Homo sapiens: one gene and its partners. The protein of the gene in region 2 interacts with the protein of the main gene of each other region in a pairwise test. Each region holds a gene or a part of one and is shown on either strand. Other genes may lie near its edges.

Region 1 (4,519 bases), about 33 Mb from region 2:
CAGATATCCAGCAATAGTCATACAAACCTCCCTTTTAAATTCACATCCTAGGACACAGAATTGTACTTGATGCTGCTCACTTTATTTATTTATTTATTTATTTATTTATTTATTTAGTCTTTCCATGCAATTAGTTTTATTCATTTTATTTTTTAAATTTTTTTTATTTCCATACGTTATTGGGGAACAGGTGGTGTTTGGTTACATGGATAAGTTCTTTAGTGGTAATTTGTGAGATTTTGGTGCACCCATCACCCAAACAGTATACACTGCACACAATTTGTAGCCTTTTATCCCTCACCTCCTTCCCACCTTTCCCCCTGAGTCCCCAAAGTCCATTGTGTCATTCTTATGCCTTTGCATCCTCATAGCTTAGCTCCCGCTTATAAGTGAGAACATATGATGTTTGATTTTCCACTCCTGAGTTACTTCACTTAGGATAATGGCTTATGCAAGGATTTAATGACGAAGAAGCCAAAAACAAATGCAATAAAATCAAAGATAAATAGCTGGGACCTAATTAAACTAAGGAGCTTTTGCACGGCAAAAGGAACAGTCAGCAGAGTAAACAGACAACCCATAGAGTGGGAGAAAATCTTCACAATCTATACATCTAACAAAGGACTAATATCCAGAATCTGCAATGAACCCAAACAAATCACCAAGAAATAAACAAACAATCCCATCAAAAAATGGGCTAAGGACATGAATAGACAATTCTCAAAAGAAGATATACAAATGGCCAACAAACATATCATTCACTTTTTAAAAATGAACCATCAGGGAAGTAATAAATAATCAAAACTGAATGAATACATTTTAAAATCACCCCTATTTCTTCTGATTGAATGTTGACCCAGATAATGGAAATGATTCTTCTGACTTTCAGACAGTAATCAGCAGACAAATTTCTTAACTCTCAAGCCAGGACTCTCTGCTGTACCACAAGGCAATTCATCAATACCCATTTTTCATTCAATTTTTTAAGTATCTATAAATGTAACATATAGTTATATATAAGATAATTTTTAGGACTTCATTTGTACTTGGCAAATGTGGTTTCTCTTAATCAGAAAGAGATTTTTGGCCTGGCATCAGGGCTCATGCCTGGCAATTCCAGCATTTTGGGAGGCCAAGCTGGGAGGACCACTTGTGGTCAGGAGTTCGAGACCATCCTGGAAAACATGGTGAATCCCTGTCTCTACTAAAAATACAAAAACAAAAATTAGGTGGGCATGGTGGTGCATGCCTGTAATCCCAGCCACTCAGGAGACTGAGGCAAGAGAATCACTTGAACTGGGGAGGCAGAGGGTTTCAGTGGGCAGAGATCATGCCACTGCACTCCAGCCTGGATGGCAGATCGAGACTTTGTCTCAAAAAATAAATTAATTAAGTAATTAATTAAATTAAAAAATAAAAAAGAGTTTATCGTCTCTAATTGTTTATATCAAGAATTGCAAATCAAAACCACAGCATGCAACCTTCCAATAACCTACAAACAATATTTTTGTCATCAAACACATCTCCAGCAGTGGTATCTAAGAAATAACATATAGCCAGGGGAGTACGAATACTCACAAACACAGCACCCCAAATCGGGTAGCCTGTGTAGAAGGTGAAGAAAAAGAAGTGCTTTTGGAAGTGGTATGGGTATTGCAAGGAACCCAGAAAGACACCCAAAGCCAGAATCATTGCTGCATTCAGGATCTGGATGGCCTGAAAGAAGAAAGGGGAAAAAGGCGTAACAGTCATATACTAAAGTGGACACTGAAAACAGGCCATTTTAATTTTCCTCAGAAAGGAGATGTCGGTGCTTGAAATGGTTAAAGTGTCAAGCCTAAATTAACAGAACGAGAGCTTATCTGAAAGAGTTTTTTATTCCACGCTATCCACACCAATTCCAGTGGCAGCATTTTGTCTTCACCTCTCCCCCACATTTCTGTTCATTCTCACGAACTCCTCTCAGAAAGTGGCAGGACAGTAAAACAGACATGATTGGTAAGGTAGATGGAGTCAAAGTCTCTTCCCAGCATGCTTTTGCATCATAATATGATGAAGGCAGACAGAGGATAAGCCATATCCTACTCAGCCTTTCTCTCAACCCAATTTTTAACCCTTCTCTCAACCCAATTTTTAAATTTAAAATATAGAATATAAGCTTCATAGAGCTCAGCCTCCTCAAATGGCTGGTCAAAAGGCACAAAACAAAAAATGAAGGGTCTTGGAATCTGTTCTCCAAGGTTTGATGTTTTCTACCATGAGAAAATGCCTTTGCATTTCTGCTCCCCAGATCTATAAGAAGTCCCTGTCTTTTCTCCAATCATTATTAAGTCAGTGATAAATAACTCAGAATTTCCTCCTTCTCAGCATAAGCAAGGTTTTCTACATGATACAGTTGGCTCTTGAACAACATTGGGGTTTGGAATGCCCACCCTTTCATGGTGGTAAATCCACGTAAAACTTATGACTTCCCAAAAACTTAACTACTAATAGCCTACTGTTGACCAGAAGTCTTACTATTAATATAAACAGTCGATTATCACATATTTTGTATGTGACATATTATATACAATAAGCTAGAGAAACTAAAAACGTTAAGGAAATCATAAGAAAGAGAAAATGTATTTACTATTCATTAAGTGGAAGTAGATTATCATAAAGGTCTTCATCCTCATCCTCTTCACGTTGAATAGACTGAGGAAGAAGAGGGAGAGCAGGGGTTGTTCTTGCTGTCTCGGGATGGCAAACAGAGGTGGAAGAAATCCACATGTAAGGGAATCCTCACAGTTCAAACGCACGTTATTCACAGGTCAACTGTATTTATTTTCTTCCCTCTTAAATCAGTGTTTAAACTAAGGCTGACTTACCCCAAGAACTTGTAATTTTGCTTTCTGATAATCTGGTGATCCATCTATGGGCTGGTAGACAGAAGTATTCAGCTCTTCTGGTCCCGCCTCACTGCCTGGGGTACCATGGGCAGAGGCTGACCCCAGCTCTGCATTATCAACTTCGTGGGAGGCCATTGGGGTTGTTTATGGCTGTGATAGAAAAGAAATCCAAAGCCTTCATGCTTTCCCTTTTTCCACTAGCTACTAAAATTTTGAGTGTTACAGAAGGGTTCAATTCTGTCCATACATTACAATGACTCTCCACAAATGGGACACCAGGGCAGAGTAACAGAGTTTGTACAATATTCAATTCTGTCTTGCCTTGGAGTAGTAGACATCATCGGGTCATTGTAGTAGGCCTTGGTGCTTCACTTAACTTTGGAATGGTAAAGAGCAATTTCTTTCTCATTTTGCATGCACTGATATATAGTCCCTGCCTTTCTTCAAGTCAGTCAAGGGCAACCAGACATATGGTTTCTCTGAGCAGTGGTCTCTTTATAAGAATAATGGCTTTAGTCACATTCCAGTAATAATAGTAGGTGTCATTTATTTAGTACTTATTACTATATGCCAAGCACTGTCTGGATGCTGTGAATGTATTAATATACTTAATCCTGTTATAATATTATTATTATTCCCGTTTCACAGATGAAAAAAATTGAGGTATAGAGAGACCGAGAAACTTACCCAAACTCATATGGCTTATAAATCATTTCAGATTTTACTAAAAACATTCTACTCTAAGGTCCAATATTTTTCAAATCACCACATTATATAGTACTATATAGAAGACGTCTTTCTGAGTACCAACATAGCATGGTAGAGTTTAAGCACTATGGAAGATCCAAATTCAAATCCAGATTTCATCATTTACTAGTTGCATGACCTAGTAATGGGAACCTCAGTTTTCAGAGTTTAAGCACTATGGAAGATTCCAATTCAAATCCAGATTTCATCACTTACTAGTTGCATGACCTTGTAGTGGGAACCTCAGTTTTCACTTCTGTAAAAATGGGAATAATTTTAATTTTATATTAACATTGCGAGAGTTGACTTTGATAATGTACGGAATTCTCAACCTGTGAACAGGTGGTATCAGCTTTTAACTTATACTCTGCCTTCTAACAAAAAGGACTTCAAGTTTGTATATATATAAGGGTCACAAAACAACCACCTCAATCATTACAGCTGAAAAATATGTATCACTAAAGTACACACAGAATGCTTACATTGGACTTCTGAATGTTGGGCAAGATAACTTCCTAATTCATAGTACCCTCCTACACAAAATAGTTGTAAAATGCTTATATGCTTTTATAACTGATGAGGGAGATGGCATGAGATGAACCATAAACAAACACATAAAATGATGCTGTATTCTGCCATAACTATCGATTGGGTTAAGAATAAGATCTTAATATAAATCATTCTACCATAAAACACATGCACGTGAATGTTCATTGCAGCACTATTCACAATAGCAAAGACATAGAATCAACCTAAATGTCCATCATTTGTAGACTGGATGAAGAAAATGTGGTACATACACACTGTGGAATACTATGCAGCCATAAAAAGGAATGAGATCATGTCTTTTGCAGGAACATGGATGAAGTAGAAGCCATTATCCT
Region 2 (5,247 bases):
GGACTCAGAGGGGTTCCAGCAGCAAAATCTGCACCAAAACCCAAGTTTGTTCTAAAAGCCTTATTTTCTACTAGGGCTCACCTTCCTGAAAGTGACTTTACCAGTTCTTTACAGACAGGGAAACTGAGGTTCAGTGGGGTTAAGTAATCCACAATTCTGAGTGGTAGACTGGGAACTAAATGCTGATCAGGTAATTGCAAGACATGCAGACTGGGGTCTTTCTGCTGGAGTGGACAGGCTGTCCTTGCTCCATCCTCACAGCATCTGCCCTGGGAAGGGGACTCATCAGCCGCACAGCAGCCCCTGTGAGGAGCAGGGATGGCCGCAGACGCCTTCCTCCACCCTCCAGCCCCTGAATGAGAAAGTCCTTGGGACAGTGGCCTGCAGTCTTTCTCAGACCAGCAAGCACTGAAGTTCATAACAGAACCAAATAAAGGGGAGGAAAACAGAAACCTCAGAGGAACTTGATGCTAGCAGCCTCTGAATTTGGCAAGTATTTTAGCAAATCTCTTACCAGGGCCATTGGCCCTTGAGTGAGCATGAGGAGACACGGAGTCTCTCTGAGACCAGCTCACAGAGCGGGGCCGCAGAGCTCTGTCAGCCTGCTGAGTCCAGGCTCTCCAGGCATCAGCCAGAGAAGTCCTTCCTTTCAATAGCTGCTTCGTCTTCCAGAGAGACTCACTCCAAGAGGCCCCAAATCTCCACTAACAGCCTCTGCCATCTGTGAGCGAGTCGCGCAGCCACGGGGATTAGGAAAAGCACTTCTCTCCCCACAGATCTCCATAATCAGCAATGACAGGAAAACAGACATCCTCAGAACAGTAACCATGAATCTGACTTCCAAAAAGAGGCTGCTCCATCAGGAACCAGGACCGCCTGAGCAGTGCTGTTAGAATAAAATGAGGCAACCATTCCAGCCAATTTGCATTGAAAACTCAGCTGGAATGCCAACAATTTGCATCCTTTCAGCTAAGAACAAAACCAAGCCTGACCTTTACTTCCAGGATCACTCTGTATTGCTGTTTGCACAAACATACCGAGTTGAAGTAGGAAAAACTAACTGGTGTAAAAAGCACCTGTCGTCACAGTCTAATTAGAACTCTCACTTTCTAAAGCAAGCCAATTAATATACCCTTTCTGTCCCTCTCCATCTTAAAATTATCGGTCAAAAAGCATAATTTTACTCAGAAATGATGAGCAGAGGGAGTGCTGGGGAAGGTGGAGAGAGCCACAGGAGAAAGGGAAGGGGAGGGAAGAGGGGCAGACCCGTGGGCAGGGGGAGACCCACAGACAGCACCTCCTTGCAAAACATGATAAGCATCCAGTTTAAGGCTATTATCTCCTTTATTCAAAAAATAAATATTTCACTTTGATTCAACATATTTCAAATCACATTAAGCACAGAGAAGAAATACAGTCCCTTTGGAGATTGTGAACACGTGTTGGAAAGAAGCATGATCCAAACAATGGGAATGAGGTGAGTGTGGATTCCAGCTGTTTCCTGACCCAGAGGTTCCATCCCTCTTCAGGTGGAGCTACTTATCGATTTTTAGGAGAGAAAAAGAAGCACACACACACACACACACACACACACACACACACACACATGCGCGCGCGCTTTGAAGTCTGAAAGGCACATGAAGTGGACCATAAGGTGTATGGCACATTCACTGATAAAACATCCCCTATTCCCTCCCAAGAAAGCGGAGATACTTTAATCAAGTCAAAGACCAGAGAAGACAGGGTGCTCCTGCTTACAGCTCAGCAACATGAACATCTCTGAATATGAAAGCCATTTTTTGTTTGCGTCCCCCTCCCGCGCCTCCTCTCCCTGCCGATGGGGTCCGCAGCCGGCTGCGGGGCTCACTCGGTGATGGTGGGGCGCGTGGCCACGTACACAAACACCACGATCAAGAGCACGACCACGGCCAGCGTGGGCAGCACCACTGTAGTGATCTGCTGCCGGGCCTCCTGCATGGCTTGCTTCCGCTCCTTCTTGTCCTTGGAGGTCTCCTTCTTGGGCTTCCCTTTGAGCTGCCGCATCTTTCCTAGAGGATGCTAGGAGGGTGTGTCCAGAGGGATTCCAGGAAGGGCCACACTCCTCTTGCCAAGGCTGGAACCTCCTGTAGAGAGAACAACTGTGATAGTAGAGAATAAACCAAATAGAAGAAAAAATAAATCACTTAAAGGCAAATACACAACTAGGAAAAATATCTGCAACTTACATGACAAAGGGCTAAGAACAGAGGCCACACCAGGCTCTAAGTTCTCTTGGGATCAGCGCTCTAAGTAGTGGGCACTGGGTCACCGGTGTGCTGTGAGAGGGGCCTCCGCTCCAGCGCCAGCTGGACAAAGCCCTGGGTACCAGACAAATAATACTGTGTTCTGTACATGCCATGAGGTGAAAGGATTGGGAAGCACCAACTACGCCGCCTCCACTCAGAGGAGCGGCTCTCCCTTTCGTGGCTCTAGCTACTTGCTTTCCTGCTCTAAGTTCCATGATCTCCCCAGCCCATCTCCAGCATGGAACTGCAGGCAGCCTGCAGTCTCCAGGCACGTAGCCCCCTTCCTGCCCAAGCCAGGCCAGCCTCATTAAGGCTGCAGAGAGCCCACAGGCATCAACTTCTCTCATCTCTTTGTTGGTTCCTTGGCCCATTCATCCAAACCTTCCCAAGCACCCACCGTGTGCCAAGCATTACTCAAGGAGCTGAGGATAGAGATGAAGGACTCAGTTGTGTCCCCACAGAGGTCACCGTCTAGGGGGCATGATGGAGACCCGGGTCACAGTAATAATGAAGGGAGACGGCTGAGCCCACAGTCCTGCCACCCACTCAACCTGGGATTCTCCTGTTAATTCTGTAGCTCACGGAGGTGCCTAACAGGTGAAGTAGAACTTTCAGGGGCCAGAAGAATGAATACAAATGTTTGGATAACTACAGAGGAACATCTCTATAAAAGTCGGCTTCTTAGCTTTAAGCAGATGAAGCAGACTTCAGCTGATTTAAATCGAGTTTACTTAAAGGCCTTTGGCATCTCACTGATTCCCAGAAAAGCCAAAGAACCAGGCTCAGAAAATGGGCAGGACATTATGCTGTGCTGCCATAACTGGAGCCCAACTCACACTCCCAGTGTGAGGATGCCAGAGCCTGCATCACCACCGTCAGCACTGGACATGGGCACTGGAGCAGGAGGTGCCGAGCCACCATGACCACCCCCAAAAACTAGATGTGGCTGCTGGCACAGTCTCCAGATGAACTCGCCACCCCCCAGCATTCTGCATCACCAGCTTCCATGCATGTGTGACTAGCCAAGCCCCGGCCCATATGCCCACAGCCTAGCCTTCCAATTTGTACAGCAGGAAGAGTACTTTTCAAACACAGTGACGGAGTGGGGTTGGGTATCAGGGCTATATCAAAGGCAGATGTCCATTACAATATTCTCGGAGAGTAGCATGGAGTGAGGGGTTCTTGGAAGCAGAAGAGCACTGAATACCAATGTTCCTCTAGCAGAGGGACCTATGCTGTATACTGTCTGCCCTGTTTTGTCCCAGGGTAGTGGGTGGCCTGTCATCATCTTGAGGAGGAAGATGACATTTACACCTAAGTGACCGAGGTGGTAGAATGTGAACTCAGAGTTGGGAAAGGTCTTACTGACACCATCCTGTTTTTATGAGGGATACTTAATCTCTTACCATTCCTCTCACTCCATTTAGACCCCAAAACCTTTTTTGTATCATTCAAAATCAGGCAGAGTTTCCTAAGGTATGAGATGACAAATATTATTGTGCTAGGATGGCATAATGCCAATCAAAAGCAAACATTAAGGTTCAGCAAATATTAAGGGAAGCGCCATTTGGGCAAATGTATAATTTCCTTCATGAAATAAGGAACAGAGAGAAAAAAAAAAACACCTACTATTACTTTCTTAAGGCCTGAAAGGTATAGGAACCCCTGGCTTTACCAATTCTCCTTTTCAAGTCTTCCAAAGGACTTCCAGGCAGACTTGCCTTCAAATCCAGGACCAATCACTTACAGGCTAAATGGCTTTGAGCAAGTCACTTAACTCCACTAGGCCTCCATGCCATCATCTGAACAATGAGAACAGCTTGTCTTAAAGGATGACTGTGAGAATCTGGAAAACAAATGCATCTGTACCCAGAGCTCTGCCCGCCCGCAGGGACGCGGTACAGGTGGGCTGAGACATCTCCACCCATACCCGTGGGCGGCCCAGGGACGGGTGCACTGAGCTCCTCTAAGCCTGACTGCAGCCTTGAGTGATGCCCACCTTCGCGGGACCGTGGTGAGGATGGAGTAGGAAGCTGTATAACTCAGGGCTTGGCACAGAGCGGGCGGCGAATTCGTGCTAGCTGACATACCAACACCTGGAACACACCCCAACGGCCCTGTGAGTCAGACAGACAGGCTTTATTATCCCCATCACGGAAGGGAGGAAACCAAGGAGCAAAGGGGAAAAATGTCTTGCCAACAGTCACCCAGTTTGTAAATACCCCATGGCTTCTAACAGAGCAATGGACAGCATTCCTGTTCAAAGCTGCAAATGGCAGCCTATTCTCTCCGACACGGCCTCAAAAAAATTGTTTAAAAAGAAACAAGCCATTAGCAGCACTCTGATTCGTGGCCATTTCCTTGTGGAGCTAATGGCCTGTCGGAGCCCGCTGCTGTCTCTCCCAAATTCCTCACAGGACTGGCAGGTGGCACCCCAGGCCTGGGGCTAGCCATGCCCTGGCTGGCTGGCTAGCAGTGCTGGGCCTGACTTCCCTCCTGCACTTCATGCTGCTGTCTGCATCCACCCACACAAGTGTAGTTGACATTCAAAGGCCCCAGCCTCCACAATGACCAGTTCTCAACATTTGTAAGATGCATTCAGAAGTTCCTGGAGGCATGGAAAAAAGCCTCAAGCTGCTGGGGCCAGGGCCGGTCTGGTCAGGATTTAAAGGGCAAACATGCCCGTCTGAATCCTGGGTACTTCATCAGGCTTCAGGAGGAGCAGCGTCTCTGCTCTCACTCACCTGTGAGCTGGGGCAGCAAGGGAAAGCATCTCTGAGATAACGACTGGGGAGGGGACCCTATGGTGAAAAGGGACCAACCAGGAAAAAAGCTGGGAAGAGCACCAGGCAGAGGGCAGAGTGGCCTGAGCCAGGGAGGGCATGGGCACTGGGGAAGGGCGGACTCAAGAAGCGCATTGAGTGCTCTGCATGTGAGGATGCTTCTTAGACATCGTCATGGA
Region 3 (4,519 bases), on a different chromosome or scaffold from region 2:
CCCCTGCCCCGCTTCATTTCTCTTCACAGTGCTCACATCTGTATGTCATGTTTTGTCTCTGTCTCCCCTGCTAGAGCATGAGCTCCACAAGGCAGCGTCTGTTTTATTCACTCTGGTATTCCCAGTCCCTAGAGCAGCGCTGTCCTGTGGAAGTATAATATGAGCCACATAGGTAATTTATTATTTTTTAAAAGAAAAAAGGAACAGGTGAAATGAATGTTGATAATGGATTTTCCTTATATAGCCAGACTAATACCCTGTATATTATATATGTATACAGGATATACATACATAGAGATATATATATGTATATAGCCAATATATAGCCAATATAAAAAATGTATCCAGATAATCTGTTTTTTTCATACTAAGCCCTAAAGATCTAGCGTGTACTTTACACTAACAGAGCATTTCAGTCTACACTCGCCTCAGTTCAGGTGCTCCAGAAGGAGAGACTGCCCTGTTGGCTGGGACCCCAGAGCAACTCCTGACTCACTGTGGGAGCTCACTTACTGTTGAGTGAACGGACGGATGTAGGTTGAACGGGTGTGAAAGCTGGCTTCAGAGGGTGGGGAGGAGGCACTGGGGTTGCCTCTCTGAAACTCATCTGCCAAGTGAGAGAGCCCAGTCTGATGGGGATGGTAGGGCCCCTTTCTTAGAGGCTCCCAGGCATCCACGGCACAGCCTGCGTCTTTTTCTACAAAGCCCCAGACCTCAGGAGGCTTTCCAGATAGGAGGGTCAGAGGTAGACACCAGGGTGTGGGAACCAGAGGACAGGCTGTCTAGTGACAGCCATCTAAACTTCACCTGCACCAGCAGAGGGCGTGCAGCCACCAGGATCCGGGTGGCAAGGGCTGAGACAGCTTCGAGAGGCTCTGGAAGGAAAGGTAGGAACACACCCAGAAGGAGAGATGGAGACAGAGGAAGGCAAAGGGAAAAAGAAACAGCAGAGGAAGGAAAGAGAAGACTTAGGGAATGGAGAGTCTCTGAGATATGGGAAGGGAAGCACAGAGACTGAGATACAGGGAAGAAAACGGGGACAAGCGACATGGAGGCAGAGAGACAGGACGTGGGGAAGAGAGACTGGGAGAAAGATAGAGAGAAAGAGCCAAAGAGAAATGTAACGAAGAGGCAAGGACAGAGACATAGAGGAGATAGAGACACTGAGGAAGGAGATCTTCCTGAGGAACAGAAATGACATCTCCCTGGGGGAATCCTGGGATGCGACTTCAGACACATGCTGATCCTCAGAGCCAGCACGACCTGATGCCAGTCCTGAGTTCTATTCCCAGCTTAGCTCTCTCTGGCAAGCAGCCCTGGGTGAACCATCTCATTGGGCCTCAGGGTCCTCGTTCATGTAACATGAGAAAGACACTGAGAGGGCTGGGTATGGTGGCTCACACCTGTAATCCCAGCACTTTGCGAGGCCAAGGTGGGCGGATCACTTGAGGTCAGGAGTTCGAGACCAGCCTTGCCAACAGGGTGAAACCCCATCTCTACTAAAAATACAAAAATTAGCTGGGCCTGGTAGCAGGCACCTGTAATCCCAGCTACTCGGGAGGCTGACGCAGGAGAATTGCTTGAACCTTGGAGGCAGAAGTTGCAGTGAGCGGAGATCACGCTACTGCACTCCAGCCTGGGTGACACAGCGAGACTCCATCTCAAAAAAAAAAAAAACAGTGAGAGGAGGAAAACAGACTGGGGCTAAAGCCCTGGTCTCCCCCTAACTGTGAGTCCACACGCCCCTTCCCAAGGGCCAAACCTAGGAGCATAGGTTCAAGACAGAGGGGGTGCAAATTTCACTCACTGCAGAGAATCCTGGAAGAGTTAGAGGGATGAGAAAGTTGACTCATATGTTAAACAGGGTGACCTTTGGCGAGTTCTTAGTTTCTCTATGCCTTAGTCCCCTCATTTGTAAAGTAGGGATTATAATAGCATCGATTATTATTATGCTAGTAGACAGTTCATGTAAAGTGCTCAGAAAAGGCCTGGCACCTACTAAATGCTCAATAAGTGTTCAATTCTATTCTTGAGTCCCCACCACGTGCCAGGCCTTCTGCCAAAGCCTTTCTAGATTGTATCTCATTTTCTCTCTAGGAAAGAGGTAACACCAACCCCATTTTCCAGAGGAAGAAACTGAGGCCCAAGAGAAGTTGAGTCCATTGCCCCAGGTGCCACCACTTGTCTGAGGCCAAGCCTCGGTTGCCCCCTGGATCTACCCCGTCCTGCAGCCTGTGCTCAGTGAGCTGCTGCACCCAGCTGTTCAAGGCCAGGGCAGGGAGCCTAGAAGTTCACTTCCAGCCCTGGGAGAGAGGCTGGGCCAGCCCAGTGGCTCCTGCAGTTGAGGATCTCTTCCTATGTCATGGAGCATTTGTTGAGCACCTGCCATCTGCAGGTGTTGTGGCTACAACAGTAGACAAATAGACCCCAGGACGTGTGTGTGTGTGTGTGTGTGTGTGTGTGTGTGTGTGTACATGCGTGTGCTTCACATACACAGAGCTAACTCAGCCCTGGTGAGGAGGATCACTCTACCCACCCCCCCAGTAGGGAAACCGAGGCTCTAACAGAAGAGACTTGCCCACAGATGTGCAGCTGGACTCTGCACCCAGGTCTGACACACTGATCCAGCTCATAACCATTCCCTCACTGCCCACCCTGTCTGGTTTACCCTATCCCTTCATGTCTCAGCCCCTGGCCATGGGCTCCAATGATGCCACCCTTGCCTTAGGGATGCAGGGAGGAGAGAGACCTGGTCCCCAGGGTGGGCTGGGAGACCGGAGATGCAGCAGGCGGGATCGATCTGGGCTGCCCATGCATTATTGGATTGTTCCTGGCTCCTGGGCCCCCCCTTCACTCTCAGCTCCTCCCAGAATCCTCTCTTCTTTGCCCTCCCCGACCCTGTCCCTCTCTGAGTCCAGCCTGGGAGGCTGGAGAGGAGAGGAGGAAAGGGTGATCTCAGAGCGTTCTTCTCTGGGCTCCTAAGCCAATTGGACACAAAAAGACAGCAGGGGGGACTTCCTGGTTTGAAAGATGGGGGGAAGTAACTCAGAGACCCTCACATTGTTGCCCCCTCCTGAAGCTTCCTGCTGTTCCCCACCCGCCCGAACTCTCAGTGCTCTGAGTGAATTCCCTCCCCGCTACAGAGCCCAGGAGGCTGAGGACCTGGGGTCACCCCTCTTCCTTCCTTATTCTTCCCACTGGTGAGCTGAGCCCTCTTGTCTCCCCAGTGTACCTCCGGGAGCGGCCTGAGGAGGCAAGGCTGGGAATGCCGGTCAGCTTGGAGGAGCAAATACTCAACTCCACGTTCGAAGCTTGTGACCCTCAGAGGACAGGTGGTGGGGGCATGAGGGGTGCTGGGGACCAGTGCGGGCAGGATGGGGTGGAGGCTGGGAACTGGGGAGCCTCAGAGAGAAGACTGGGCTAAGGCCCCCTCTTGGGGGTATTGTAAGAACAAAGTGGGTGATTATGGGAAGCTTCAGGAAGAAGAACGTGGATAATGGGGTGAAGGCCTTTTAGAATGAGGAAAACTTGGGGGACGTTGATGGAAGAGGGCAGAGTTTTGGGGTCGTGGGATAGGGGAGGGAGGCAGCCACCATGGTGGCGTGGGGCATGGCTGATGCTGTCCCTATGTCCATCCCCTTTGGTTTACCCTGTGATGGGGGGATGACTGGGCCCCATTTCCAGGTGAAAAAGTGGACTCAGAGGAGGGGAAAGGGCTTGCCCAGTGTGTCTCCACTGGGCCATGGAGCAGGAGTGCCACCAGCCTAGCCAGTGACATCCTGGTCCCAAGCTGCTGCCAGTCCATACCCATCACTCCCCACCTGCCCCAGACCCCCTCACTGCATGCTCTGTCACAGGCACTGTGGCTGTGGCCCAGGTGCTGGCCTACCTGGAGGCTGTGACAGGCCAGGGCCCCCAGGATGCACGCCTCCAAACATTGGCCAACAGCCTGGACCCCAATGGGGAGGGCCCTAAGGCCACTGTGGACTTGGACACTTTCCTGGTTGTCATGCGTGACTGGATTGCTGCCTGTCAACTACATGGGTGAGTCCCCACATCTTCATCCTCCTCTGGGAAGTCCTTCCTAAGATCTAACCTCATACCTGCTTACTGGAGCCAGCATCCTTTAGGCCCAAGGACCTACTGTGTTTGGAATGAGGCTGTGGAGAGAAAAATGAAGAGACGGGATTCAGAGGGGGTAGATAGGGAGTCTGAGGACAAAATAATTTGGATGAGGAAGCAGAGGGGGTCTGGGAGACAGAAATAAAATGGGGCTGGAGAAGGGAGGAGTTTGGGGCTGACAGAGGTCCCTCCCCAACCCTTCACCAAACCCACTCCTTGCCCCTCCTGCTTTTCCATCTGGCCACGGGCACTTGCCATCTGGCCTCACCCTCCTACCCTGTGGTGCCAGCTCTCACCTGACCCGGTCCCCTCCTCCCACCTGCAATCCCCCTGCCTGTGGCTGGTGAGGACTGAGGGGCAGCTACAGTGGGGCGCTAAGCCTCATCCCTTTGATACA
Region 4 (4,519 bases), on a different chromosome or scaffold from region 2:
ATTTGTACGTAGGCAATCAGATCTTTGTTTCTAAATGTAGCAAGTTACATTCATCTCTGTTAACCTTCATCTTACATTTAGTCTATTGCTTCAGTTTTTAAGCAACAGAAACAATCTTTAATAGAAACTTAATTTTTATTTATTTGAGACAGGGTCTTGCTCTGTCACCCACGCTGGAGTGCAGCAGTGTGATCATAACTCACTGCAGCCTTGACACCCTGGGCTCAAGTGATCCTCCCACCTTAGCCTCCCAAGTAGCTGGGACTGCAGACATGTGCCATCATGCCTGGCTAACTGTTGTATATTTTTTTGTAGAGATGGGGTTTTGCTATGTTGCCCAGGCTGGTCTTGAACTTTTAGGCTCAAGCATTCCTTTGGCCTTGGAGTATCTGTAGCAAGTGATAATGCATATCCTGAGAGCTAGAAGATTTTTCTTTAATTTTTCATCACTGTGGCATGACTATACCTACATCACCACAATCAGACTTTTTCTCAACCTCACATACTACAGAAGCATCTGCTGGAAGGGTGAGGAGAGGGCACAATACTTGTGGCTCCTTTCTCATCTAGTAGGACTAGGCTACTGATTTCAGATACAGACTCAAACGGAAATGAGTGGTAAGAGTCAGGAGTTTTAGGTATGAGGCTGATGCCAGGTAAGTTTTTATTATATTTAGAAAAAAAATGTAACTGGAAATAAAGGTAAGTCATTTAAAATGAATGAGAGTTTTTAAACCCCTATAATTCTTTAATGGCAGCATTTGGGTCCACTGCCCAAGCCACTTTTAACCCAACCAAGATGCTGGAAAGCAGAGCACACAGTTGTGCCCACCAAGCCCAGGAGGGCGATGGACCCCAGGGCTCCTCGACTACGCTTGCTGGGTTCTGAAAAAGAAGAAAGAACAGAAGTTACCAGGAGTGCTCCAGAATTATGATGCTTTCAACATTCGCAAGCCATTCTATCATCGCATCTGAGGTTGTACATTAGACAAACTGGCCTTAGGAGGTTAACTAACTCTTTAGCCTGAAGCTGTTGGCAAGTCAGATACCACATGCCAAGTAACGTGCCACAGTAGTATTGCTTGGATCTTAGAAAATTATGGGATAATAATTACAGCAACTTTGCTCTAGGACCTTTGGAAGGAGTTCCCTCTGTTTCAAAGAAGTACAGCTAAAAATGGCTTTTCCTCCTCCTTACTCAGATATAGGAGGTATAGTAATGGTGAGGCTCTGGAGTCGGACTGCATGGGTTTGATTCCTAGTTTACTAGTTTACGCTTAGTAGCTCTGTGACCTACAGCTTTAATCATGCTGAGTCCCAGTTTCCTAATTTGTAAAATGCAATAATATCTGTATTACAGAATTGTTGTAAGGTTAAATAACATATGCAAAGTTCTTAGAGTAGTGGTTGGCACATAGAAAATGCTCAATAAAAATAAGTTTCGTTACAATTGAAAGATTAATAAAAAGAAAACAGACCTTTCACCTAAATATCAGGTGACTTCCCCTTTTCTCAAATTCCCAAGAAAAAAAATATAGTAGCATAAGATTTTATTTTTTTTTGAGATAGGATCTTGCTCTGTCTCCCAGGCTGGAGTGTAGTAGTGTAATCATGGTTCACAGCAGCCTGAAACTTCTGGGCTGAAGCAATCCTCCCGCCTCAGCCTCCCAAGTAGCTGGGACTACAGGTGTGCACCACCACATCCGGCTAATTTTTGTATTTTTTGTAGAGACAGGGTTTCACCATGTTGCCCAGGCTGGTATCCAACTCCTGAGCTCAAGCAATCTGCCTGCCTTCGCCTCCCAAAGTGCTGGGATTACAGGTGTAAGCCACTGTGCCTGGCCAGCATAGGATTTAAAATTTTAAAGTTGTTTCCTTGGCAAATGTCAATATATACTAACCTCCCGTGTAATAGCCATAAGCATAAAGAACTCGTCCAACAATCCAGGCCAAGCCCAGGCCAGAAGCTATACGCTAAGAAAAAAGGGCTACATTAGTATTTGCATGAAAGAAACAAGCAAACCTTTTTTAACACCTAGGGTTGATTACACAATATGTTAGCAAAAAGTTAACAATTTGATGATTTGGCCAACTACTCCCCACGCAAATTAGGTAGAATTAAGTTAGTTTCAGCGGGAAAATAAAATATCTGTGATTCTTCTATGAATGGCTTGGCTTGTGGACCTGGGAGATGAGTATTGGCCTTCTCCTAGACAGGTGGGATAGAAGGAATCCCCCCACTTGCCCTGGGCATCTTGGGGAACTTGTGTCAGAGCTCAAGAGAAGGACATGTGGGCCAGCCGGTCTCAGGGCAGGCCAGAAAAGAGAACTGCCCCAAAGTCAGGACTAGGGGAAATGCCGTTTTCTCAAATGGGCCTCTGAGCATGAGATTGACTGAAGACTCAGCTGCTGTTCTATGTGAAGTCAGTCACTGGCAGGGCTGGGCTCAGGTGGTTCTGCAGGCTACACTGGGGGTGTAGCTCCACTAGAAAGAAGGGGAGCGCTTCTCCCAGAATACATGGTCTTCGAGGGAAAAGTCTCCCTGTTCCCAATGTCCTTGAGAAGAGAGAATAAAAACTTAGATGAAAAATCCATCCCTTTGGCTGTCATGCTGGGGTGACTTCCTTGGTTAAAATAAGCAAGGAGAGAACACAGAAGACAGCATGTGAGAAGGCCGCCTTCCCCAGTGTCTTTCCCACTCAGCAGTGCTACTGTTAGGGATAAGGTTACTGCATCAGGGTTTTTGTTTGTTTGAGTTGATTTTGGGTAACATTAAATGTCAACAGGAGGGTGAAACAAATGAAAATAACACCAGTCCCTCAAGTCACGATATAGCAGCTCTAGTCTCTGCCAGGCCCTTCTTTACTATAATGTTGCCTAATGACTGGCAACCTAGGAACAATTGTTAGGTGCTTGTCCCCAAACTAGCTCTTATTTTTCAGAACTACCCATAAGGAATGGGATCCAGGGATGTGTGATAGGAATGGGGATGGAGTGGGGACACCAAATGAGGACTAATCTAGAGACCTGAGCTATTCAGATCAGCTAGTCTAGTCACTTGCTAGGAATGGGGATCTTTAGAGGCACCAGAAAGATACATTTTCTAAGAGATACAAGAGCAGTAGATGTTTCTTTGAAAAAAATGCAGGCCTTCAAGGTCATAAGCAGTAGATATGCCATTCTGGCAGCTTTTTAACAAAAGTACAAGGCATTCAGGATGAACCAGATGGTTAGGAAAGGCTTAGAACCAGAAGTCTGAAGGGCCACTCTGGTCAGAACTTGGTTTCAGGAGATAATCTGTCCTCAGAAAAGGGGAACACTTCTGTCTAAGACAAGACCCAAATGGCAATTAATTAGAGGCTGATAAACTTGCTTTATTTAGATATGTTTAAGTGCAGACTAAATCTCCATCCCACAGGGCTATCTATACTGCAGAGGCCTGCAAGTCCCCAGTGACCTGCCTCATCACCCCTCTGCCCTCTGTTGCTGCCCCTCTCCTGGCTCCATTGGCTTCTCACTGCTCACCAAACAAACCAGACAGGTGCCTGCCTCAGGCCTTGCTTGTCTTCTGGCTGGAGGTTGGGGAAACTCGTGCAGCACCTGCTCCCTCACCTCCTTTTATACTTGCTTAACTATCATCTCAGCAAAGCCCCCCTCCCTGACCACCCTATTCAAAATTATCCCACTCCACATCCCCTTTCCACCTTCCCCACTTTGTTTTCTTCTCTGCACTCACCACCTCCTAACACATGATGTAATTTACTTAGGTTGCTTCTTCTCTGTGACCACCCCACACCCCACAACAAAAAGGCAAGCTCTATGAAACCAGGGGTCTTTGTCTGCTTTGATCACTGCTTTACCCCAGGTGGTGAGTGAAAGTTTGTTGTGTGAATGAATTACTATAACAAATGAACTCTTATAGACATGAAACTTAGAACCAGACAGACCTGAGTTCAAATTCTAATCCTTCTACTCTGTAGCTATTTGACCTTGTGAAGTTTAAATAGTATATGAGAGGCTTTTCCTTATCTGTAAAATATGAGGAAAATCCCATCTCCTTTAAAGAACTCTGTAAGAAATAATTGAATAAAATCCTTTTAAATATGCAGTGCCTAGACACTGAAGATATTCATTAAATGTTTATTTCCTTCTTCTGTCCCTGATAATAGCTCAGTGAACTACTATCCAAATAGATGAACACCTCCTGGAAAACTTACCGGGTGGTAAACACCTCCAACAGCTAGAAAAAATAAGAAGGGAGGATACACTTCCAACCTGGAATTGACAGAAAGAAACTTTTAAAAAGTGCCCTTTTTAAGTATGCCTGTGTAGAATTATGAATTTTTTTTTTTTTTTTTTTGAGACGGAGTGTCTCTGTCACCCAGGCTGGAATGCAGTGGCATGATCTCAGCTCACTGCAACCTCCGCCTCCCGGGTTCAAGTAATTCTCATGCCTCAGCTTCCTGAGTAGCTGGGATTACAGGTGCGTGCCACCATGCCTGGCTAAGTTTTGTAGAGA

What was found. Proteins that work in one complex are often made in the same cells at the same time.
Region 1: the proteins of SMCO4 (region 2) and MS4A3 interact in binary tests that used the Homo sapiens proteins (3 or more experiments, as listed by UniProt).
Region 3: the proteins of SMCO4 (region 2) and KASH5 interact in binary tests that used the Homo sapiens proteins (3 or more experiments, as listed by UniProt).
Region 4: the proteins of SMCO4 (region 2) and MGST3 interact in binary tests that used the Homo sapiens proteins (3 or more experiments, as listed by UniProt).

Annotation. Positions count from the first base shown.
Region 1 is NC_000011.10:60,059,665-60,064,183, reverse strand, and holds part of MS4A3 (membrane-spanning 4-domains subfamily A member 3), read right to left. Parts: intron 3,039-4,519; 5' UTR 3,024-3,038; coding exon 2,868-3,023; intron 2,662-2,867; exon of another isoform or gene 2,630-2,661; intron 1,717-2,629; coding exon 1,579-1,716; intron 1-1,578. UniProt on the Homo sapiens protein: Hematopoietic modulator for the G1-S cell cycle transition. Modulates the level of phosphorylation of cyclin-dependent kinase 2 (CDK2) through its direct binding to cyclin-dependent kinase inhibitor 3 (CDKN3/KAP).
Region 2 is NC_000011.10:93,477,147-93,482,393, forward strand, and holds the end of SMCO4 (single-pass membrane and coiled-coil domain-containing protein 4), read right to left. Parts: intron 2,139-5,247; coding exon of another isoform or gene 2,044-2,138; coding exon 1,864-2,043; coding exon of another isoform or gene 1,724-1,863; 3' UTR 1,326-1,723; downstream 1-1,325.
Region 3 is NC_000019.10:49,391,249-49,395,767, forward strand, and holds part of KASH5 (protein KASH5), read left to right. Parts: intron 1-2,097; exon of another isoform or gene 2,098-2,151; coding exon of another isoform or gene 2,152-2,152; exon of another isoform or gene 2,153-2,171; intron 2,172-2,228; exon of another isoform or gene 2,229-2,584; coding exon of another isoform or gene 2,585-2,609; intron 2,610-3,227; coding exon 3,228-3,332; intron 3,333-3,857; coding exon 3,858-4,044; intron 4,045-4,519. UniProt on the Homo sapiens protein: As a component of the LINC (LInker of Nucleoskeleton and Cytoskeleton) complex, involved in the connection between the nuclear lamina and the cytoskeleton.
Region 4 is NC_000001.11:165,651,734-165,656,252, reverse strand, and holds the end of MGST3 (glutathione S-transferase 3, mitochondrial), read right to left. Parts: intron 4,276-4,519; coding exon 4,218-4,275; intron 1,975-4,217; coding exon 1,902-1,974; intron 886-1,901; coding exon 749-885; 3' UTR 117-748; downstream 1-116. UniProt on the Homo sapiens protein: Displays both glutathione S-transferase and glutathione peroxidase activities toward oxyeicosanoids, as part of cellular detoxification as well as synthesis of bioactive metabolites.